Linked DNA regions of Homo sapiens. The protein of the gene in region 3 purifies or fractionates together with the protein of the main gene of each other region. This does not show direct contact. Each region holds a gene or a part of one and is shown on either strand. Other genes may lie near its edges.

Region 1 (5,714 bases), on a different chromosome or scaffold from region 3:
ACCCCCTGCATTCAACTGATCAAAATTCTGAAATATTTTGCCCAAATGACTGCAGTCAGTTACTACTAGCAATGTTGCATAGTGGTTAGAGTATAAGCTGCAGAGTCAAACAAAACTGGGCTTCTTTCCTGGCTCTGACCTTTCTACATTATGTGACCTAAAGCGTATTTCTCACCTAAAGCCTGTTTCTTCATCTGCAAAAAATAACTATCTTAACATCTATTTCACAGGGTTATTGAAAAGACTTAATGAGATTGTATGCAGAGTAATGGAATATAATAAATGCTCAATAAATGGTAGCTATTATCTTCCTGCTCTAGCTTGTCCCACTCACTTCCAAGCCATCTTCCTTGCTGCTGCCAGACTCACACTCACAAATCCAACCATCCCCCTGCTTAGAGTTGTCCAGTGACTCCCCACCTTTTTTTTTTTCTTTTTTGAAACAGAGTCTCACTCTGTCACCCAGGCAGAAGTACAGTGGCACTATCACAGCTCACTACAGACTCAACTTCCCAGGCTCAAGGGATCCCTTCCACCTCAGCCTCCTGAGTAGCTGGGACTATAGATGTGCACCACCACGTCCAGCTAATTTTTTCTATTTTTTTGTAGAAACAGGGTCTCACTATATTGCCCAGGTTGGCCTGCAACTCCTGAGCTCAAGCGATCCGGCCACCTCAGCCTCCCAGTGTTGGGATTACAGGCGTGAGCCACCGCACCTGGCCTTCCCACTTCTTTTTCTCTGCACACACACTTATAACATCTAAATTCCTTAGTATACAAGGCCATGTATACAGCCTTTTATCTTTTACCACAGCTGCATATGTGCTACCCTCCAGCTACATTAAACTGTATGCCACACCCCAAACACAATTTGAATGTTTTTTCATACTTCCGTGGTTTCTTGCACACTGTACACTGACAGCCAAGCCCTTCCCTCAGTCCACTTCTTAAGCATCTACTGCAGACTCAGTTCAAGCATGTCCTTCTTTGTGCTTCCACAGCACTCTGCACTGCCCTGGTACAAATCACACTGTTTTGTAGTCATATTTACCTGCTTGTCTCCTCCACAAGATTGTGAGTTCCTTAAGGGTGGGGATTATGTTTTATTCACATTTGTATCCCCAGCACCCACCACAGGACCTAACGTTTTATAGGAGCTTCACCTATGTTTGTTGAATAAATGGATGAATGAATAGTTCTCGTTCTGAGCAGAGCTCTGACCTCTATTTTCCTACTACTTCTGCAGCAAACAGTATCCATATATTAATATATGTGGTCCCTTACCAAACCCCCTGACTATCCACCCCTCCTCCCAGCAGTGCCAAACACCGCAGCCAAAATTTCTGATGCTCAGGCAGTTACAGGAGTGTGGGACTGGTCCAACTAGAAGAGGTGGAACAGAAGCCAATAGTTTCAGTGTAGGCCCTAACCAATGTCAGTGTTGCTATCAGAGTCCACCCCAAATCCCAGAGACAAGTGTTGCTGTCTACTTATCCAGAACCTAACCTTAAGTGTAATGAGGGGAAAACATATCTCAAGACCATTCCTTTAAGTGTGACTGGACTGGATGGCTACCTACTTACACCACCCTCCTCAAACCCTGATTCAACAAGAAGCACCCACAGGCACAGCAGATGCTTTTGTGGTAACTGAAGAAAACACAAAGGACACTTCTCTGAGGCTCTTCACTCTTAAAAGTCAGGCTCTACATCTTTAGCAAGCAAAAAACAGGACACAGTTTATTTTTCTACTTTCTTTTAATATCATTTTTTAAAGTTGGTAAGCAGCTAGACATCATTTAGAAGCAGACGGGTTAAAATAGACAAGAAATAGCAAAGACACATCCTTCACATCGTACAGAACTGTATTAGTATCCACCACCACCATCACAGGGGAGGGCTAGCTGTCACTGGGGTCAGGAGTACTCTCCATTATTGTGCAGGGGACCAGACAGCATTTAGGTGTGACGATGTCAAACTGAGTGGACATAGAGAGTGCCGGGATCAAGGTCTACAGTTTTGGCTCTAGACTTGCGTGAGGGTTGGTTACTCTTAATCTCTTCCAGGCTGTGCTGGATCCCATAGCCGAAGTAGATAGCAAAGCCTAGTGGGGAAAGGTAGCTGTGAGGTGGGGGTGTAAAGGCTTCATAGGTTTCCTACTTGAGACCAAGAGGGAAAGGAGCTGGGCTAGGACACCAAAGAAGCCTACTCTTCCCAAGTGGATACCTACCAATCAGCATCCAGACCCCAAATCGGGCCCAGGTACCAGCTGTCATCTGCATCATAAGGTAAATATTCACAAAGATGCTCATTAGTGGGAGGAGAGGCAAAGCAGGCACCTGAAAACAAAGTAAAATCTTCTTTGTACATACCACAGGTTGACCTAGAAAGAGATCCCTATCCTATGCAGGCCAGAAAAGGGTGAGTCCAACTCTTACTTGTCCTCTGCATTTCAGTAGCTGCTCATTTAGCATACCTCATGAGACTCCAAGAATATGCAGTTTGGGTAAATGGAACTGGAAAGGAACTAAAGAGGGTCAGAGAAGAAGTCTTTGGCCTAGGTACCTCCTATATCTTCCCTTTCATGTTCAATTAAAGAATATCTATGAACTTTATTAGACCTCAAGATATCTGGAGCCTATTCTCCCAAGATGGGCTGGCAAGGAAAAAAGACAGAGTTCATTTACCTTAAAGTGAAGGGGAGTGGAACTCTGTGGCTGTCTCCAGATGACCACAATGATCCCAATAATGAGCAGCAGGAGCAGCACAACCACTGCAGTCCACAGCAGGTCTCCAGAAAGCAATGGAACTGACCACTGGGCCAGCACCAGGCAAAGAGCAGTCAGCAGGACAGCTTCAAAGGTCAAGTTGAGAGACATCAAAACCAACTCTTAAGACCAACATGCTAAGACATTAGAAACCCTGTTCCAAGGAGAGTCGCTCTCTCTCTAGTTCTTCCTCAGCCACCAAATGCCACACACTTCGACCCAATCACGCTGATCTCAGAGCCACCCCAGAAAAATTCCACTGCTCACCAAGCAATGAGGAACAAACATAGACAATTTGGCCAGAGAGTGGAGTGGGGATGGAGTTGAGTGGGAAAAATAGTCCCCATAGGGTCAACTTCTCTGATTCAGTAGTTATTGCCTCCTCCTGCAACTCCACTTCTTCCCCAGTCTTTGTCTCCTGATCAGGTTGATACCTGAGGCAAAAGTAAGATGGCAGTATTAAGAACAACCTTTACTCACTTTATCATCTTCTCCCAGGCAGCTTAACCTTCCTCATCACCATTAAGGGAAGTTCTTTTTGGCAGGGTGAGATACCCAGATTCCTCAAAGAAAGTTGGAATAATGAAGGCGAAGGAGGAAAGAGGAGCAGATCTCCATCATTCCTCATCCAAGAATAAAAATCCAAATCACAGTATGCAGAGGAAGAGTCTCACCTGAGGATGAGAACACAAATCGACACCAGGGAGTAAGCAAGCAGGGTCCCAATTGACATGAGGTCCACAAGATCAGTGAGTTTGAAGAGGAATGCCATGAATGCTAAAATTAATAGGCAGGAAACAAGAAATGAGAGAAGGGAGTGGCAAAGTTAAAGAAGTTGGCGAAACAACTAAGGGAAGGGGAAAGAGGGTCTGTTACCTGCAATAATGCCAGAGACCACGGTGGCTATGATTGGGGTGCGTGTGCCGGTGTGGATCCGAGCAAGTACACGGAACAGGAGGCCATCCTCTGCCATCGCGTAGATCACCCGAGGCATGGGGAACATGGAGCCCAGGAGGCTGGAGAGGAGAATGCCCAGGGTGGCATGAGTTGACTGGGATCTCTCTTCCCAAGACTGTATGTTTAAAGAGTCTCCACTTTCCCCTCACAGCCCTTTTAAGGGGTATTCTCTGGTACTGAATGCTATAACCTGAGACTCTGACAGCAGAAGAAAACAAACATTTGATACTGACCTGGTAGAAAGAGCACAGAGGGAGCCAACAGCCACAACATAGCGGGCAGGAGCCCATCCAATGTAGAGAAATGCCTCAGGCAAAGGGCTCTCAGGCTGAAGCTGGTAGTAAGGCATCATCAGGGTGAGTGCAGAAGAGACAGCAAAATACGCCAAAAAGCAGACAGACAGTGAGATCACAATGCCCATCGGGATGGAACGCTGGGGATTCTGGGCTTCTTCTCCTGAAGGAAGGGCGTAAGGTTCTAAATTAGGGAAGCAGGCCCACTCCTCTACCACCCCCAGTCTGCATACAGCCTGGGCACACACTGTGCCCAAGCCCCAAACAGAATGGAATGACTGTGTTACCAGTGGTAGCAATACAGTCGAAACCAACAAATGCATAGAAACAGGTCGCTGCTCCACGGAGAATTCCCTCGAAGCCGAAAGGCACAAATCCTCCAGAGCCCAGAGGACCCAAGCTAGAGTGGAAGAAGGGTTGGAGAAGGTAAGGGTGTGTTCAGCCAACTCTGTATCTTTTCTCTAATGCCAAACCAGTTAGCTAGGTCTTCAAAGCCCAGCCTCCCATTTTTTCCCATCCCCATCCAGAATCCTTCAGCAGATCCCCTTCTTCCCCTTCATTTTCCCAGCTCTGCAGCTCCTAAGAGTGACCATCTAACCTATAGGTGTCATTGAGTTCAGCCATGGCCAATTCGTAGTCCTCTTCTGTGAGCTTCCAGTTGTGCACGTCCCCCTTAACGAAGCCAGAGATCATGACGAACCCAAGAACCAAAAGGTTCACGCCTGTGAACACTTTGGTAACCAGGGCCGACTCACTAGCCCCGAGAGCCAACAATCCTGTGGGAGAAATGCATTCAGGACTCCCAGAAAGTCTTCAGTCCAAGCTTTGTTTCCCTGCCTCTAGGTTCCTTCCCAGCTTTTCTTCTTCCCCACCATTATCACCTCCCTTAAGCCTTTCTCAGGCCCATCCCCCATCCTTATCCCTGGCCCCAAGGACTAGCCCCTCCTGGCCCAACCCCCACCATTATACCCTGCTCTTTGCCTCACCAGTGAGCAGCAACACGAGGCCCAAAGCAAAGAAATCTGGATATTCTGCAAGGACATGGGGCACGTGCAGTGCAATGGACCCCTGCAGAGTCTTAGAGATGTGGTTCCCAATCAGGTTGTCAAAAGCAGAGCTCCAGGCCCGGGCCACACTGGCTGTACCTGGTGTAGCAGAGAGAGAAACATGTGGCCAAGTTCCCTTCTTCCCAGACCCCAGGCTCACACAAGTCCCTGCCTTTTTCACCTATTCTTACTTTTGTTTTGTTTTGAGACCAAGTCTCACTCTGTCACCCAGGATGGAGTGCAGTGGCACAATCTCCTCTCCCTGCAACCTCTGCCTCCTAGGTTCAAGAGATTCTCCTGCCTCAACCTCCTGAGTAGTTGGGACTACAGGTGTAAGCCACCCTGCGCGGCTAACTTTTGTATTTTTAGTAGAGACAGGGTTTCACCAGGTTGGCCAGGCTGGTCTTGAACTCCTGACCTCAGGTGATCTGTCTGCCTCGGCTTCCCAAAGTGTTGGGATTATAGGCGTGAGCCACTGCACCTGGCCTATTATTACTTTTTAAGAACCAAAACCATTCACTTAATTAAGGAAACCAGGACGGAGATGGATAGAATGAGCAATTTCTCCACACCTTCAACACCCCCCCCCAGACCCCCAGCAAACCCGCACATTTAGGGAGATTGAGGTCCTGTGAATAATATAAAGAATAC
Region 2 (9,696 bases), on a different chromosome or scaffold from region 3:
AAAGTTTTGAGATTACAGGCCTGAGCTGCTGTGCCCAGCCAATAACGTCTTTTGAATAAAAGAAAAGATATTGTTAGGGAGTATGAACATCACCAGAAAATGAAAATGTTTCTTAAAAATAAACGAATTTTTAAAAATTATTTTCTTAAAATGAAAAATTTTTTTCTTCTGGACTAAATTGCAATGTGGAAAGAGTCACATCAGCCTTTGGACAGAACTAGGGCTGTGATTTACTACAGGGAAGTTAGCATCTTTCTGAGTTTTCTTAATGAACACGTGAATAAGAGATTTGGTTATACTTTGTGCTTATTTAGCATCCTCTCTTTGAGGATGTCAAAAGGATTTTAGAAATGTTCTCTTTCTCACACAGGTGGACGTCTGATTTATGAAGCTCCCCATCCACCTATCTGAGTACCTGACTTCTCAGGACTGACACCTACAGCATCAGGTATCTTGCCTTTCTTTAGTCTTAAAAGCGGTAACTAAGTTCCTTGAGGAGATATAGGCAGGGAACACATTAACTTCGTTACGTTTCATATAGGCCTGGGAACCGGAGTTGCTGCTGTAGTCCTGGTTCTACCATTAAATGTGTGACTCTAGTCCCTTTTCTTCTCTAAGCCTCAATTTTTTCTTCTGCAAATAGGTGGGGTTGGACGGGGTGCTATCTAATCACTTGACGGTATTATGGTAGTCTACTTTTATCCGAAGCTTCACTTTCCACAGTTTCAGTTACCTGCAGTCAAACTTGGTCCAAAAATATTAAATGAAAAATTTCAGAAACAAACAATTCACAAGTTGTAAATTGCACACCGTTCTGAATAGTGTGGGTGAAATCTCATACTGTCCATGTGATTTGTCCCTTTGTCCTGCGATTCCACACTGTGTGTGCTACCTGTACATTAGTCACTCAGTAGCTGTCTCTGTTATATACAGGGTTGGGTACTATTCACAGTTTCTTTTTCTTTTTCTTTTTCTTTTTTTTGAGAAGGAGTCTCTCTGTGTCGCCCAGGCTGGAGTGCAGTGGTGCCATCTTGGATCACTGCAACCTCTACCTCCCAGGTTCAAACAATTCTCCTGCCTCAGCCTCCTGAGTAGCTAGGATTACAGGCATGTTCTACCACGCCTGGCTAATTTTTGTATTTTTAGTAGAGATGGGGTTTTGCCATGTTGGCCAGGCTGGTCTCAAACTCCTGACCTCAGGTAATCCTTCCCCCTCGGCTTCCCAAAGAGCTGAGATTATAGGCGTGAGCCACTGCACCTGACCCACTATCCAGTTTCAAGTATCCACTGGGGGGCTTAGAATCCACTCCTCAGATAAGTGGGGGTGGTTACTGCATTCTCTTTGCCCTCTATGTAAGCCGTCAGCTCTCCACTGTGGATTATTCAATTCCTTTATTATTTAATGGCAGGATGGCTTTTCCCCCGACTCACCCTCCTCAGCTCTGCAACTTGAAACTGTCTTCCCAAAACATCTAGCTGGGATGTTGGATTCAAACCTATGAAAATTCCTCAACTTAAGAGTATTTGGACAGATAGCACAGAAGTCGTGGCTTTTAGACCTTAGCTTTTCCCTACCGGCTTTCTGTTTGCATTAAGCTAGTATTTGACACTTGATGTCTAGGGATTCTTACCTCCTTTGGCCAATGGTACTTCACACCCATATGCTAGTCCTTTTATGCTAAATGTGGGTTTTCCTGTTGTTTTCCAGGTACACAGCTTCTCCTAGCATGACTTCGATCTGATCAGCAAACAAGAAAATTTGTCTCCCGTAGTTCTGGGGCGTGTTCACCACCTACAACCACAGAGCTGTCATGGCTGCCATCTCTACTTCCATCCCTGTAATTTCACAGCCCCAGGTAAGGGCTTCAAACTAGCAGAGGTCTGAGGTAATCGTAAGTTTGTCAAATATTTAAACTGGGTTTCAGGAAGTGTATTTGACTCTAGGGATCATGTATATCTCTCTCGCTATCATTTGGTGTGTATTCGAATAATGGTGCTTTTGTGAGTGAGGTGCCATTTCGTTCAGGAAGCAGCTGGAACAATGAACAAGTGATTTTAGTGAACTGGCCTCTGTTCATAGGAGGCCTTGGTTTTCAGTGCTTAGGATGTCTGACATTATAGGCATCAAACTCTAAATCAAAGTAAGTCAGTAGTAAACCCTGCTGCTTTTCCTCTCTTGGCTTTTTTGTGGGCCGGGGGGTGGGGTGGGGTTTAATGAAATATATCAGAATGGATCTAATTTTATAACAAGTTTTCTGAGGGCTGTCTTGTTGTCCTCCTCCTATACTTACTCTTTTGCCTTGATCTGTTCTAGGAACTTTGAAACAAAATGCAATTCCAGAAACTTCTGAGCAGCAATCGTATGAGTTATTTTTTTCTGTCCAGTGAAGAGCAGTAATACGGCAGGGACATGGTCTTTGTTCAGATGATTTTACAGCCTGATTTAATCAGGCATTGGCTGGACTCTTTCAGATTCACCAGGCAGCAGGGTACAATGTGGAAACAGACTTTGGAGTCATAAGGCCACAGTTCACATCCCTGCTCCTCTGATTGCAGGATAAAGAGCCCTAGTCATGCTAGCTTCTCTCAGCTTCAGTTTCCTCTCATGTAATCATTCCTCACATGATGGTTATATGGATAAAATGATGGTTCATATACATGAGGCATACAGAGGTGCTCAGCAAGTGTAGTTTCCCATTTACTCTTCATTTATCTTCTTTCTATAGTGTGACCTCCTTTCTTATTTGTGACAATCATTTTTTGGCCAACTTTATTTTTATTTATTTATTTTTTTGAGAGAGAGCCTTGCTCTGTTGCCCAGGCTGGAGTGTAGTGGCATGATCTTGGTTCACTGCAATCTCCACCTCCTGGGTTCAAGCGATTCTCCTGTCTCAGCTTCCTGAGTAGCTGAGATTACAGGCGCCCGCCACCACGCCCAGCTAATTTTTGTATTTTAGTAGAGATGGGGTTTCACCATGTTGGTCAGGCTGGTCTTGAACTCTTGACCTCAAATGATCCACCTGCCTTGGCCTCCCAAAGTGCTGGGATTACAAGCCTGAGCCACTGTGCCCGGCCTCGGGCAACTTTGAAGAAAAAAGCATACTTTCAAGAAAGAGCCATACTGATTGAAATTTGAACTTGATACAGAACGTTGTTCCACACTGTTTTTTTCAGTATGATTTTGCAGGCTATTCAATTTTGTATGTATTTTAAGTAGGGGTTTGTGTGTTTGTGAGAGAAGGAGAGAAGGAGGAGAGGGAAAAAGGAGAACAAGGGGCATTTTTCCCTCATATAGTATAGTGTTTTCTCCTCAACACCATTTGGGATGTCATCATTGTTATCAACCTTGGGATTTTATCATATGAATAAAGCCCTTTATTCATATCATATGAATAAAGAATAAAGTACTAAGGCCTTTAGTATTATTTTCCAGAATGTTTAGTGTTACCATCGTCATACGCATTCCTCTTTCTGGTAAGTGGACCATTGTCCTTTCAACACTTCATTTACTTTGGGTGTTTGGTTTCCCTTATCTTCAATAGACTTTTTTGGTGTCTGAGAGACTTGGAGAATGGGCAAAGAGATTTAGTGCCTGTTACCTGAGGTCACCATTTCAAAGTCCACTGCAGCTGTTCCCATGTAATGACTCTTCTTAGTCCTTTCGTGAAGTGAGTTAGGCTAGTGCGGGTTTTCTAGACAGGGCATTTCCACATCCCGGTTTGCTGCTGTCATCTTTCAGCATTTCCAACAGCATCTTCTTATCTATATATCTTCTCTGTTACACAAGCTCCTATCAGCTGGTGAGGAATAGAAATACCTCTAAATGACTCATTTAATTAAAATGTTTAACACTGCCCAAAGGAGAAAGAGGTTCTATTTCATACAATCACTGGGGGAAATGTGTACTCTCGTAAATTCTCTGTGGGAAAGTAAATTGGTACAGTCACTCTGGAGGGTAATTCAACAGTATCTATTAAAATTATACACTTCTGCACATGCCCTGCTCCTGTCTTGGAATCTACATTAGAAAACCACTCACACATGAGCCCAAGGAGTGTATAAGGAATGTATAAAGATATTCATTGAAGCATTGGTTGCAAACCAAGAAGTACAAAATTTTGTGAATATCCAATAGTAGAAAGACTTAATGAATTCAGGAATGTGGACATGATTGAAATACTATTCAGTCATTTTATTTATTTCTTTTTTTTTTTTCTGAGACAGAGTCTCATTCTATTGCCCAGGCTGGAGTGTAGTGGCACGATCTTGTCTCACTGCAACCTCCACCTTCTGGGTTCCAGCAATTCTCCTGCCTCAGCCTCCCAAGTAGCTAGGATTATAGGTGTGTGCCTCCATGCCTGGTTAATTTCTGTATTTTTAGTAGAGACGGGGTTTCACCATGTTGTCCAGGCTGGTCTCAAACTCCTGACCTCAGGTGATCTGCCCATCTTGGCCTCCCAAAGTTCTGGGATTACAGCCATGAGCCACTGCGCCCGACCACTATTCAGTAGTTTTAAAATGAGGATGTCTACACAGCTATATATTACTCCAAGATATCGTATGGAGGAAAAAGAAAGCAAGACGCAAAATAGTACTTATGGGAAGATACCATTAAAATTCTAAAACAAGACTGTGTATTTTTAGGGAGAAGTATATGGTACATTAATGGAAATGGATAATGAAAGTCCTAGAACATACATTCTTAACATAGTTATATTGCCCCAAGAGGACAAAAATTGGGTTTTGGGAGATGAAAAAAATCCCTCCAGAGCTTATACCTCTATCCAACAAAATCTTATTCCTTAGTATTTAGTTTTTTCTCATTAGAAAAAATTTAAATGTAATTAATTTTTCTCCTTAAGGATCACTAATGAGAAAAAAATATGGCCAAGAAACACTGGTTTCTTGAGGGAGGCACATAGGCTCACCAGTCACCCTGCTTCAATTTACTAATTACCTGAGCCTGAGGGGAAGGTATCCACCCTCTTAGTGCCTCTATTTCCTTACCCACGGAATGAGCATAGCATTAATGAAGCCAACCTGATAGGGTTATTTTAAGGCGGAAATGAAATAATTTCTATAAAGCTCAGAATAGTGCCTGGCACATATTCTGGGCACATATTGCCCAGTGCATATTAGCAAGCATTGTTATTATTGCTCAGCAAGCCTTGTGGCAGGGCTGGGGGATACAAGAATAAATAAGAGAAATAAGTTTTGCCCTGCCAGAGTTTACAGATATAGTGGGAGATACACAGATAAAACAAAAAGTTACAACGCTTTGTCACCCATGCAGGAATGCACAAATACAGGAAGTATGGGTGCTCTGGGAGGAAAGTGGAGACCCAAGAAAAGATTTAGAGGATCAGGGAAGGCTTCTTGAAGGAAGACCACTAGGCTGAGGACAAATTAATATGAGTTATTTTGGTAAAGGAGAAGAAAAAGCATAGGTGAATGTCAAGTGTCCCAAGGTATGTGTGTGTGTGAGAGAGAGAGAGAGAGAGGGAGCAAAGCATTTAGAATTTTGTTTTGGATGGTTGCACTACAGTGGGGCATGAGATTGTAAACAGTGATGTCCCTAGAGCCACCTATACCAACTCACAGAAGCAGATTGTTAAATTTTCAGGAATTTCGCGAGCCAATTGACTTCATGCCAGCAGCTTGAAATCAGCCACATGGAATAGTTATACTGCAGAAATCGGCAAGTGCTAGAATTAGCATAAATGGGTTAGGTTATAAAGTTGGAGATTTTACAGGGTCTTTCAAACCGTATTAATGAATTTAACATTGATCTTAAAAGAAGTCTTTGTTAGCTTAATGGTCCCAGCCTTTGAAATAGACCTGGGTTCAAGTTCTGACTTTCGATAATAGTTTTATTGAGCAAGTTTATTAATTAACCTTAACCAGGGTAGTTGCATTATTCTCACCGTATTTTGGGAATAGTGGCAGCCTCTGATGGTTGGGGAACTAAGCCCACGGGGAAGGAGTCAGCTATACACTGGGACATTAGGTCATAGAGATAGATAGCTTCTTCTGGAGAGATGCAGACCATTGGGTCACTTGGTTCCCAGGATCCTTTGGCCAATGATGGGCCTCCTAATTATATGTCAATTCCTCACATGTAATTTGTACAGTGAAATTTAGTCCAAGGCTGACTTGCCCTTGCCCCGAAGCTTCTACTGATGTCTTCTCTCTTATTATCAGTTTTGCCCAAGTTCAAAGAAGGTAAAAATAATTTAGATATAGCATCTTCTTAGGCAAGCATAATAAGCAGCTCACTCAGTCACCTTAGCCTGGTATTGTCTGGCACATCAACTTGCTTTCTTTTCCAGTGAATTCAGGGACCTTGTAAAGATAAATCCACATTCAAGTGTGAAAGGCCTGAAAATCCTTTTCTAAGGCCAAAACAACAATTTTTTAGAAAAACTTTTGGTTTTGTTTGTTACTCTATTCATTGGGTAACAAAGAGCATTTTTCTAATCAAGGCTGCCTAATACTACATATAAACGAATTAATATGAACAAATAGCTTGTGATTGTTTCAAACAATAATAGGGAAGAAAGCTTGCATTGTCACGCCTGCTGGGATTGCTGTTTAGTTAGTTGAAAGATATGCCTTGTTTTTTGAAGTGGGGCAAGTTTGTATTCTCTGCTTTACCCCTGCCTTGACTCTGAGACAGATTTTTGTTTTCTCATGCTGAGAGAGCACCTAGCTCTTACAAAGCTAGGTGATGAATACTAAGACGAAACTGGACTAGCAGCAGCAAGAAGATGCCGTGTTTGTAACCGATTTATAATTCTGCTGGTCCAGACACTGAAAAAGAGTTTTCTTATCCAAAGGAAACTCCTGGGATGTATTTGCAGACAGGAACCTGTTCATCATTAGGTTGAGTTAATGTGTTCGTATCCTGTGGATATTGGGGGCATGGGGATGGGGTAGGAAACCAAACAAACTTGCAGCTCTCCAGAGCCATTTTCTGTTTCTAGCACTGTGTTAAGCATTACCCTGTGCTTGATCAGGTTACTGTGGATAGAAGTTGGATTAAAAGTTTCATTTTCATTGTTCATGAAAGAGTCAATAGTTCAGTACCAGAGTGAGCAGTTTGGCTTCTCTTAAACCTAGGATTATATTAGAGGCCAGAATAGGTATCTGAAAACCTAAAAGATATTCAGGTCTCACACCTGTGATTCCAGTAAGGCAAGAGTCTTCTTTATCAGTATTTTTCATGGTGTATCATTCTGTCTCTCATTTGTTACATGACCATTTTGTTATTTTTTAATTTTCATTTTTATATTTATTTGAATTTAAATTATTTTATTCTAAAATATTTTACTTTAAGTTCTGGGATACATGTGCAGAACATGCAGGTTTGTTACATAGGTATACATGTGCCATGGTAGTTTGCTGTACCTATCAACCCATCATCTAGGTTGGTTTTTTTTTTTTTTTTCTTGAGATGGAGTCTCACTCTGTTGCCCAGGCTGGAGTGCAATGTCGTGATCTTGGCTCGCCACAACCTCTGCCTCCTGAGTTCAAGCGATTCTCCTGCCTCAGCCTCCTGAGTAGCTGGGACTACAGGCGTGTGCCACCATGCCTGGCTAATTTTTATATTTTTAGTAGAGATGGGGTTTCACTATGTTGGCCAGGCTGGTCTTGAACTCCTGACTTAGTGATCCGCCCACCTTGGCCTGCCAAAGTGCTGAGATTACAGGTGTGAGCCAGCATGCCCGGCCCATCATCTAGGTTTTAAGCCCGCATACAATAGGTATTTGTTCTAATGCTCTCCCTCCCCTTTTCCCCCACTCCCAGACAGGCCCTGGTGTGTGATGTTCCCCTCCCTGTGTCCATGTGTTCTCATTGTTCATCTCCCACTTATGAGTGAGAATATGTGGTACTTGGTTTTCTGTTCCTGTGTTAGTTTGCTGAGAATGATGGTTTTCAGCTTCATCCATGTCTCTACAAAAGATGTGAACTTATTCTTTTTTATGGCTGCATAGTATTCCATGGTGTATATGTGCCATATCTTCTTTATCCAGTCTGTCATTGATGGGCATCTGGGTTGGTTCCAAGTCTTTGCTATTGTAAATATAGTGCTACAATAAACATGCGTGTGCATGTGTCTTCATAGTAGAAATGATTTATAATCCTTCGGGTATATACCCAGTAATGGGATTGCTGGGTCAGATGGTATTTCTGGTTCTACATCCTTGAGGAATCACCACACTGTCTTCCACAAAGGTTGAACTAGTTCACATTCCCACCAACAGTGTAAAGGTGTTCCCATTTCTCCACATCCTCTTCAGCATCTGTTGTTTCCTGACTTTTTAATAATCATCATTCTAACTGGTGTGAGATGGTATCTCATTGTGGTTTTGATTTGCATTTCTCTAATGACCAGGAATAATGAGCTTTTTTTCATATGTTTGTTGGACACATAAATGTCTTCTTTTGAGAAGTATCCGTTCATATCCTTCACCCACATTTTGATGGGGTTGTTTTTTCTCTTAAATTTGTTTAAGTTCCTTGTAGATTCTGGATATTAGACCTTTGTCAGATGGATAGATTGCAAAATTTTTCTCCCATTCTGTAGGTTGCCTGTTCACAACCATTTTGGTTTTAAGTCAAGAACATAAAGATATTTTGATCCCTCCAAGTGATTTCCTGTAGCTTTCATTGAAGATGTGAATTTGGGTAGATTTTCAATATCTTAGTTAAGAGATTGTTCCTCCAATTCTCATTCAGTGTTCTGATAAAAAGTGATTGCGGCTGGGTGCTGTGGCTCACACCTATAATCCCAGCACTTTGGGAGGTTGAGACTGGTGGATCACCTGTCAGAAGTTTGAGACCAGCCTGGCCAATATGGTGAAACCCCGTCTCTACTGAAAATACAAAAATCAGCTGGGTGTGGTGGCGTGCACCTGTAATCTCAGCTACTCAGGAGGCTGAGACAGGAGAATTGCTTGAACCCAGGAGGCAAATGTGGCAGGTTGCAGTGAGCCGAGATCGCACTACTGCACTCCAGCCTAGGTGAAACAGTGAGACTCTGTCTCAAAAAAAAAAAAAAAAAAAAAAAAAAAAGTGATTGGTGTCTGTTTGTTGTCTTTTGGAAGACACTTTTTTTTGGACATCCTTACCAATAGGTACTCTCAACAAAATATGTATTTTCAAAATCTGTGTTTTAGGTTTTATTTCTGTTATTAGAAAGTGGATTTTTTTTTTATCAAAGCAACTGAATTTCACATTAAATGGGTTTTTTTTTTGAGGCTGAAAGATTCGTCTTTTTGGATAGAACTTTGTACTATGGCAGTTTTCAGACATTCACAAAAATAAAAATAACAATCTCAATATAGCCAACACCTAGATTCAGTAATAACATTTTGACACAGTTGCTTCACTTGCTCCTTTTTTGGGGGATGAAGTATTTTAGGATCCCTAGCATTGTCATCTTTTAAAAAATCCCCTTATGTTAATATGCATATCTAAAAAATAATTTGCTTAAATAACCACACTGCCATCATCACACTTAGCAAAAGTATAAATAACTCCTTAATATCACTTGATACTCAATTCACATTCAGGTTTCTTCAGTTGCTTTTCTAAAATGTGTTCTTGTAGTTGGTGGGTTATTTATTTTTATTTTTTAAAAACATTGATTAGATCAGTTTACTCTTCTGCATAAAATGATTCAATGACTCTTAA
Region 3 (9,921 bases):
ATACATTGGACTACAGTACCTCCCCCTCTTTGTTCTCTTTTGATGTAAACAGAATATTTTTATAATTTTCCTAGAAGACTTCTAACAAAGTGAAGGCCTTTTGGGAATAGTAGCACCCACTAATAAAGAGAAACCAACCTATCAATCTTCAAACAAATGGAGAGAACTTCTTAGTTCAATGAATGAACACAACTGTCTTACAATGAGGAAGCTAAGAGCCAATAAATTTAGGCTGGACTGCCTTTCCTTTCTTTGCACCCAACACCAATACACTGGGTGCTGTAACTTAAAATACAAAATTATTTAAATTGGAAGTTTGGTTAGAATACTCTTATAAAATTCTTTAATAAATACTGTTTTTTACTTTAGAATACACCGACACTCAAATACTATAATAAGATAGAGTTTGACATTTCTAAGTTATTTTAGCCAATATTTAACCTTTTTGAGAAAAAAATCAAGAGTAAGTATGTCACAGGCACCAATCTTACAGAATTTGTGATACAGAGGAACTTTTAAAAATTACTACATCCAATAAAAATTAGCTTAGTTGATCTGTCAACCATGAACTGAGCAAAAAAGAAAAAGGCTTGGTTCAAGCAGTATAAAATATTTGTGAAAAATGCAAATAGTAGTTTAACAATAAGATCTGAAAGCTGGAGGGGACCTTAATCATTAGTAACAATATGTGCTACACAAATAACACTATACAAGAGTATCTAGACAACAGCAGTGCCCTTCTGTAATAGCTCCAACTCCCTTCTATTGTATTCTTTCCTTAGCAATGGGTTTGCTAAACTGCAAAACCCTCCATTAAGCCTTTGAGGGGTAGTTTTCTGATTTAGGACTGGCTTCCTGAGTTCTTTCTCTTCAGAATATTCAGAGTCAGAAATTAGACCTGTATAGTCTGGCTATATAGTCCCAAATTTTCTCTTTTCTTCCCTGTCCTGAAATTAAGCACATAAGCCCATGATATGTCAAGGTTTTATTGCTTGCCAGGAAGACAGATGGGTGCAACAAAAATAACTAATGGAGGGTTATAAAAGTTCTAAGAATTAGCCATTTAAATGTCTCAAAACTCAACTGGACATTAAGCAGAATACTGAATGGGATGATTCTCTTTAGCAAGGACAAGTCATGTTAAGTCTTTACGTTGCATAATTCAATAATAAAGAAGTCAGGATTAAAGTATTTCAAAGCAACTTATTTTTTATCTATTGTGAGACAGAAAGAGTATTCAGTTGGGAATCAGAAGACCTGGTCTAAATCTGGTTTTACTATCTTGATTGACGATCCTGGATTAAGTCACAAAACCTCACTGGACCTCAGTTTATCTGAAAAACGAGGGTGTTGGGTGAGATCAGTCAGCTGTAGGATCACCACTCTGCTTTCATGTTAAGACTGAATTTATGAAAAAGGCTTCCAAACAAACCCTACTAGATCCTTTTAAACTCTAAAATTTCTTGATACCAGGATTGTAAATCAACTTCTACTATGCAGCAGCACATTGTTAATCTATATGTAGTTACTGTATGAGTACATGTAGCTCACTTCTGGTTTTCAGTGACCAGTAATGAGTCCAAGAAGGAAATGTGACAACAGTCCTCTTGCTAGAAACTTCGATGGGACACGAGAATCTGAAATTATACTGAATTACAAAGAAAAAGCAAATTAGCTACTTTTTTTTTTAACCCTGAACTTATTTGTTTGTATCAAACATTTCTCCCCAATGTGCAAAGTATAATTAAAGATCACTGAATCTATTAACCATCTTTCTAAACATAAAACATCAAGCAACAAATGACAGAAACTCAGTTGGTATTACAGACCTTTTGCCTAAAAATTCTACAACAGGATCTTTTTTGTAAGTTAAACTCTGAACTTTTCATTACATTTGATCTTTTTATCACAAGTGATGTATTATAGTTTCTGATTATCTGGAATGATAAAACTGAGGTACTTTCTAGGCTAGTATATTTTCATAAGTGTGTTAGGCTGCATGAAAGTAGTACTCTAAGATCTCTCACAAACATTTTATACAGCCATGTAGAAAATTTCAAGGACAGAAAAATAAATGTCACTTAATTTTGCAGTATGCCCAGTAGATTTTAATAATCAATCCTCAAATAATAGAAAGTAAACAGCTATACTCTACATAACTCCCAACCTAATAGTTTACTGAATAGAGGGTTGTTAATCTTTCTTCAGCATATCAAAGAGTAGTTAACAAAAAATAAAATAACAATCCAATCTAAATCCTTCATCCTGGGTAAGGAGTAGAATAGAAGGGAGGGGCTGCGTGCCAAACACTTTTAATAACTTTTAATAAATAAGTTGACTCACCTATTATTTTCACAGCAATCTTAAAGTTTTTCTTTTTTCTTGCTTTTTTTTTTTTTGAGGTAAATATGTTTTCTTACCGATGCAGACAGGGAGGTAAAAATTAACTTGCTCAAAGTTACTCAGCCAATAATTGGTGGAGGTGGGGTACAAACAGGCAGTTTGGCTCAAGTTTTAGCTCTCTGCCACTGTCACATTACTCCACAGCCTCTGTTTAATATAAGATCACAACTAAATAAGAGCAGCTATTCAAAAGGTGAATTATATAGCCCTTACAACAATATTAAAGAGCAACTGGAATTGTAAAACAATGTGTATTGAAGGGCATAAAATTGTACTGTCAAGTGTAAATCTAAGGAGTTCTGTAAGTACAAATCTGACAGACAATTTCAATATACAATCTAATAAAATACTGTATACCCACGTCAGAGGAATAACACTAACTCTTGAAAGATTAAGAACAGTATAATTAGAAACTTCTACTGATCTTAAGACCTAGTCTTATCTGTCTGAACTCGAAATCTGCCTCTTTCTAATTCCCTTCTGCACCCTGTTCGGAACTACTTTATTTCTGCCAAATTCCAAAATTCCAAATTTACTGATCATGTGTGTCTTTTTCACAGCACTTAAAAAGTTTACAGAAGAATTTTAACTTGCATAGCTCAAAACATCTGTATTGTACGCCAATAAATCGATAAACTTAAAAAAAAAAAGAAGGGATAAAATGGAAGAAAGAAAAAATCATTCTAAGCAATGAAATAGTAAGGAACAGAAAGGCAATGATGAATGTAACAATTTATGATTATAGTAACAATTTACTACATGTGATCAATTTGAGGGCTTATGAAGGTTTCTCAGCACATCAGCTGATGAGACGACTAATAAATATCCTGAGTCCAAGATGTTCTACATAATTAATCCTCTTGGCAAAGAACAAGAACCAGGGAAAATCGCAAGGAAGAAATGCACAAATGACACGCATGTGGAATTAGGGGGAGATGTTATGTACGTTACTACGAGGATGACACACTGGCATGTGAAAGGTTTCTGGGCTCCACCAGCTCGTTGCAGCACCAACGAGGTTGTGGTTGTTTACACCACGTCGCCCGGAAAAAAGCCGGCAAGCTTCAAGTGGACTATTAAGTTAATAATATTGAAGGGAAAGAAGGGCAACGCAACTGAACATCTGGATGAGCAGATCCCTGCCTAGGCCCCGAGGCAGCTGACCAAGTCCAGATCATTCCCCCTTACGGTCTATGCGCACAAAGAACCAGCTGCTTTAGGTCAGTCCGCCGCCTCCTGCTACCCCTATTACCGTGGCCTTAATTTCAGGCCAGCTAAGGCCAGAGGATGGGGTGAAGGGAGGGGAGGAGCCCCGGGAAGGGTCAGCGTCTGCGCCCCAGGGGAGGCTGACCTTCCAGCTCAGGCCCGGGACAGCGCGACCACAGGAACTCCAGGCCCACAGCCGCGCCTCCGCAGCCGGATTCTGAGCGCGGCGCCTCCTTCCTTCCCCTGCTGCTCCACCACCACCTCCGTCTCTGTCTCCGCCGTCGCCAACACCGCCCCCCCTCAGGCCCCTCACAACGCGCAGCCTGCAGCCAGCTGCCTCGCGGCGGAACCCCACCCCACCCCACCCCACCTCGCCCTTGCTTTCGCTCGCCCTTTTAGGGGGCTTTCCCCGCCCCTTCCACTATCCAGCGCGCCGAAGCCCCCTGCCCAGAGCTCGGCTTTGCTACCTGGATCCGCTTCTTGTGTCTCCTGCGTTCCGCCATGTTGGCCGCTCCGCCCGGTTCCCTCTGACGTGGAGCGAGGAGGGGGCGGTGGAAACCTCGCGAGAACGCGCCCCGAGGCCCGTTATGTAATCCGCCGGCTGGCGCCCCTGGAATGGGGAGGTCGGCCGCCTGGCGGGGCCAGCGGTCCTTAGCGGTGCCTTCTCTCCCCTCTTCCCTCCGCTCCTGCTGTGCGGGAACTGGAGAATCGTTAGGACGTGGAGGAAGCAGAGAAGTGGATCAGAGAACAGGAGGGCTGGGAAGAGTCCTGGTTTCTCAATCCTGACTGAGCATCTGAATCACCTGAGAAGCTACTAAAATGCAGATTCCCCGACCCCATCCCCTTAGAGTCAGAGTCTGTGCATTTAGGGTGCGGCCTTTCTCAGAGGGATCGACTGAGACCTACTGAACCCTAGAAGTCTTTACCTGAGGCAGTTCCTGCAATGTACTGTATATTTCATGACATTCCATGTAAAAGATGACAAGACCGAGACCGTTGAGTGACAGAGATAAGAACTGACTTATCTAAGGCTCCACAGGTGGTAGATGGCAGAGCCGAGACCTGAGCCAATTATCTTTTCTCCTGCACTGTGCGGGGTAATACAGCTCGTTTAAAACAAGCTGGAGTCTCCATTCCGTTTTCCGCGTTGCTTCTCACAACTCACTGTTAGAATCCAGAAGTAAGAGAACCCGGGGAAGCGTAAGGAAGATGAATAGGACAAAGATTCTAAGAAGGTGGGAAGGAAGAAGGCTGCAGTCTATTTCAAGTCTGGTGAATTTCAATCACTGTAGCCTTTATTGTTATTTTAGAGCCACCTAGACCAAAAGAGAAGGAGCTCAAATTGCTGGTAAGTGCTTAGATAGAAATTCCCTTGACTGACTTTATAGAGATCTTTAAAGCGTTTTTAATTGTAGAAAATTGGGAAAATTCAGAATAGAAAGATGTTCTTTTTTTTTTGATGCTGAGTTTCGCTCTATATTGCCCAAGCTGGAGTGCAGTGGCGCAGTCTCGGCTCACTGCATCACCGAACTCCTCGTCTCAACTGATCTCCCTCCTCAGCCTCCTGAGTAGCTGGAACTACAGGCATGAGCCACCACACCTGGCTAATTTTTACTTTTTTTGTGTGGAGATGGAGTTTCCTTATGTTGCCCGGGCGGGTCTTGAACTCCTGGGCTCAAAACGATCCACCTGTCTCTGTCTCCTGAGTAACTGGAACTACAGGCGTGAGCCACTGTGACCGTTCAGTTTATTTTCTTATAGTATTCTGACTTTGTGTGTGTGTGTGCATGTGTGTTTGTATTTATATTTTTTCCTGTTTCCCAAATTGAGATCATATGCAATAAGGCAGCTGCTTTTTTCACTTAATGTTAGGTTGTAAGCGTTTATTATACCATTAAAATTTTTTTCCAGGTTTCCCATATTATATATCTAACCTAAGAGCAATTAAATATGTAAGTAAGGCAAATTGCAGCATCTTGATGCCTAATTTTTTAATAAAGTAAGATTGCTGAATTTTTTTTTTTTTTTTGGACTATGCAGTTCTGGTCTCAGGAGTCATTTAATTCCTTTCTCCTCTATAATCTATAATTTGGGTGTGTGTATAGTCAGGGATGGGGTGAGAAAGAAGTAATTATTCTTGCCAATTAACCCAAAACATAATATAGAATATGAAATGTCTTTATTTCCTTCAATCCCTCTACCCACCCAGAATGATGAATCTGTTTTGTGCTGTTTTATGTGGACATAAACACTGGACTATTTTATAGGAGACCTGGTCTATAAATGAAAATATTATTGCATTCAGTAGGTATTGAGTGCCTACTAGATAGATGTCAAATGTTAGGTTAGGACTATGGTGGGGAATAAAAATCCTTTATAGACAATGACTCATCCTCAAGTTACTGCCTTACTATTTTCTTCATCAGCAGAGCTTTAATTTAGTGTCCTCTTGTTCTGTCATTCACTCCTTAGATTACAACAATTTGGTTTCTACCTCCACCATCCAGTAACAATTATTTTGTCAAACCCAATACCTTCTCTCAGCTGGCATCTTACTCAGTATTTGACAATATTGACTGTTCTTCTTGACTTCTTTTCCTTCTTTGGCATGTATATCAACTTCTTTCTGATTTCTCGTTGACTTCTCTCCTTTTACCCAATTCTCACATGTTCCTGGCCACCGTTTTTATATGTTCACCTTCCTCTTGTCTCTTCTATTTGTGCATTCTGTTTACAGATTAATTCCAAAATACTGCATTCATGTTTAATTCCAGATTTCTTCTGGATGTTTCCACTGGATGTCCAACTAAAAATCACCATTTCCCCAGCAAAACCTGCCCCTTTTACTGTAAAAATCTAATAACTACATCGTTGTTCACTCAATTACTCATGCTAGAAACCTTGGATGCATCCCAACCATGCCTTTCTGCCAGTCAGTCACCAATCCTGTTGATTCTACAGCTGAGATATTTGGAATTCTTCCCTCCCTTATCATTCCCATTACCATTGCCTTGTTCAAGTCCTTATCATCACCTACGTGAACTAGTATTGCAATGGCCTTTTAATTGTTCTCCTCACTTCTATGCTCTTTACACTCCAGACCTTCTTCCTTCCATGACTCCCTGTTGTGTGTAGCAGCATGAATGATGGCTAATGTTCACACATATAACCTCAGATTTATGGGTCAAATTTCTGGGTCTCCTTTCCATTTAATATTTATATAAAAATATTTATATAAAAATAGCTCAAATCCTTTTCCCAGCACACCATCTATATTATTGATGGTGGCAGTAAGGAGTTTCCCCTAGCCACTTCTAGTTCCAACTTACTTTTGAATTTCCAATTTTACTCTTATTATTTGACAGTTATTTCTCTCCCAAACGAGGAGTATTTTTTGTTATTGTTGTTGTTGTTGAAGACAGGGTCTTGCTCTGTCGCCTAGGTAGGAGTGCAGTGGTGCGATCTCGGCTCACTGCAACCTCCGCCTCCTGGGCTCAAGGGATTCTCCCACCTCAGCCTCCTGAATAGCTGGGACCACAGGTCGTGCCACCACACCCAACTAAATTTTTTAATTTTTTGTAAAGACAGGTTTCTCCATGTTGCCCAGGCTGGTTTCTAACTCCTGGGCTCAAGCAGTCTGCCTGCCTTAGCTTCTCAAAGTGCTGTGACTACAGGCATGAGCCACTGCACCTGGCCCCTGTTCTTTCTTTTGCCAAAGCAAAACTATTAGTTACAAGAGACTTTACTGGAGATTTTTGAGGAAATGAGTTATATTTATTCATTCATTAAACAAATGTTTATTGAGGGCTTATTATGTGCCAGTCCTTGTTCTAGACACTGAGGATATACTAGTGTTCAAGAGGCAAACATCCTGCTCTTGTGGAGCTTATATTTTGGGAAGAAGAGAACAGACTGTAAAACACAAGAAGGCAAATTATATGGTACAGTCGTCCATCAGTATTGGCTGGGGATTAATTGCAGGACCCCTGTCAAAAATCTGTAACAGTGAATGACAGTGAGTAAATCAGGATTAGTTCTAGATTTTAGATGCTTAAATCTGCAGATGCTTAAGTTCCTCATAAAAAGTGATACAGTATTTGCATATAACCTATGCACATTCTCCCATATACTTTATATCATCTCTAGATTACTTATAGTACCTAGTACAATGTAAATGCTATGTAAATAGTTTTTATACTATGTAACTTTAAAATTTGTATTATTTTTATTGTGGTATTGTTATTTTCTGTTAATTTTCTTTCCCAAGTATTTTCAATTGGTTGAATCAGCAGATGTGGACCCTTGGATAGGGAGGGCCCACTGTATGTTAAAAGCCTTACAATAGAAACAAAGCAGGGTAAAGGGACTGCTTGCAGTGGGAAGGAGGATGTAATTGGAACTTAAATGGTCAGGGCAGTCCTCTTTGAGGAGATCCACTTTGACCAAAAACGGCATGAAGAAGAAGAAGGAGCAAGGCCAGTGGGTGTCCTAGGAAACCATACTTAAGGTAGAGTGAACAGCATTTACAAAAGTTCAGAGGTGGGAGAGTGCAGGTGTGTTTGAGTAATAGTATGGAGGTCAGTGGCTAAAGCAGATTCAATAGAGGAAGAGGAGTAGGTGATAAGATCAGAGGGAAATGGGGCTAGATTGTGTAGGCCATTTAATGACTTTGGCTTTCACTCTGAGTAAAATGAGGGCTTCAGAGGGTGTGCCACGATGGATTAGGGTTAGAAGAATGACATAAAATGGCTTCTGTTTAGAAAGGACCGTGATTGCTGTGTTGTGAATAGACTGTGAGAGGAGATACAGGGATAGAAGTGGGGACATAGGTTATTGCAGCAAACAGGTGAGAGATGATGGTGGCTTAGACTTGGGTGTTTGCTACAGAGGCAGTGGGACATCTTGGATTCTGGTTATATTTTGAAGGTAGAGTCAATGAGATTCTGAATATGAGGGAAAGAGAGGAATCAAGGATAACTTCAAGATTTTTGGTTTGACCAACCAGAAGAATGGAATTGTAACTTACTAAAATGAGAAATATAAGAGTGAAAGAAGTTTGGCATGAAAATATAGAAATTTAGTTTTTGGTGTGTTAATGTGAAGAAGCCTAATGGACATCCAAGAGGAAATATGGATTGCACAGCCACCTATATGAGAAGCAGATTTCAGGGAGAAGTCTTGGCTGGAGGTATAAATTTGGGAGTTGAATGGAATCAGAATATGTTGCCCCCCCAAATATGCCACTTTGGCATAAGGATAATTTTGACCTGAAGGCAAATGAGAAAATCAGACACAGCAAGAGCTCTCTGTCCTTATCTGCCTAAAAGAGCATAAATTCTCACAAAGGTGTCCCCATTCTTCTCCCATACCGAGACAAGGAAAACAACCCTTACCACCAGAAGTGGAGACAGCACCAAGATGAGTCTGCACAAAGAAACCTTACTATAATCCTTATCTACCATTAGTTTCCCCTATATTTTTACCTTCTCACAGTTTACCACCTGTATAAACCCAAACCCCCTTTTCTTTATCTAGTTACTTCTCTTCAATTTATCACCCTTTGTTAAGATGGCATATAAGCCCCGAAGTCTAACCACTTCTTTGATTTTTCACTTCTTTTCCATGAAGCCCTCATGAATGGTAAAAATATTAACATCAAATAAAATTGGTACACTTTTCTTCTGTTAATCTGTCTTTTGTCAGTTTAATGCATAGGCCTCAGGTACAGAACCTAACAGGATAGGGAAATGTTTTTCTTCCCCTACAGAGTTATCAGTGCATAGATGGTATTTAAGTCCAAGAACCTGAGGGATCACTTGCCTCCCACCACCCTCCAGGATGTCTCACAGACTTCTGCTTTTCATCCCACCTCTCTAATCCTTTCTTCTCAATCTTTCTTGCTGGGTTCTCCTCTTCCACTCTTCCTTCCAATGTTAGAATGCTAATGGCTTTCCTATCTCTTTATATGCTTTAATCCATAACATAGAGCCCACAACTTAAATAAGGAGTATTAGGTATTGATATCTAGGAGTTCCCTGGCCATCCCTGTAGGCCCTCCTCATGTCCTTTCCCACTGCTCCTGACTACCTGCCTACTTTTCTTCACTCACTCTAGAATACTTCCCACCCTTCTGAATCTCTTCTCTTTGCCCCTGGGCTCTGTCACTTCTCCCTAGGGTTGTCTCTGAAATTCAGAATTTTCCTTGCTTTATACAGTAGACAAATTGGGCTCTTTACTCTCTATTGGATTCCTTTGGACATGTTTTTGTAAATTAAGAAATTCATTACCATGTTGTGCTAAACAAAGCATTCT

What was found.
Region 1: the proteins of SEC62 (region 3) and SLC7A3 purify together in Homo sapiens (affinity purification with mass spectrometry; 2 studies listed by BioGRID and IntAct, with this or other methods). This does not show direct contact.
Region 2: the proteins of SEC62 (region 3) and LPAR1 purify together in Homo sapiens (affinity purification with mass spectrometry; 3 studies listed by BioGRID and IntAct, with this or other methods). This does not show direct contact.

What each region holds. Positions count from the first base shown.
Region 1 is NC_000023.11:70,923,841-70,929,554, forward strand, and holds the end of SLC7A3 (cationic amino acid transporter 3), read right to left. Parts: intron 5,163-5,714; coding exon 5,004-5,162; intron 4,794-5,003; coding exon 4,616-4,793; intron 4,418-4,615; coding exon 4,305-4,417; intron 4,181-4,304; coding exon 3,958-4,180; intron 3,784-3,957; coding exon 3,644-3,783; intron 3,545-3,643; coding exon 3,442-3,544; intron 3,202-3,441; coding exon 3,035-3,201; intron 2,854-3,034; coding exon 2,687-2,853; intron 2,339-2,686; coding exon 2,230-2,338; intron 2,104-2,229; coding exon 1,973-2,103; 3' UTR 1,739-1,972; downstream 1-1,738. UniProt on the Homo sapiens protein: Uniporter that mediates the uptake of cationic L-amino acids such as L-arginine, L-lysine and L-ornithine. The transport is sodium ions- and pH-independent, moderately trans-stimulated and is mediated by passive diffusion.
Region 2 is NC_000009.12:110,964,233-110,973,928, reverse strand, and holds part of LPAR1 (lysophosphatidic acid receptor 1), read left to right. Parts: intron 1-370; 5' UTR 371-448; intron 449-1,708; 5' UTR 1,709-1,811; coding exon 1,812-1,856; intron 1,857-9,696.
Region 3 is NC_000003.12:169,961,014-169,970,934, reverse strand, and holds the start of SEC62 (translocation protein SEC62), read right to left. Parts: upstream 4,129-9,921; 5' UTR 4,113-4,128; coding exon 4,077-4,112; exon of another isoform or gene 2,344-4,076; intron 1,649-2,343; exon of another isoform or gene 1,552-1,648; intron 1-1,551. UniProt on the Homo sapiens protein: Mediates post-translational transport of precursor polypeptides across endoplasmic reticulum (ER). Proposed to act as a targeting receptor for small presecretory proteins containing short and apolar signal peptides.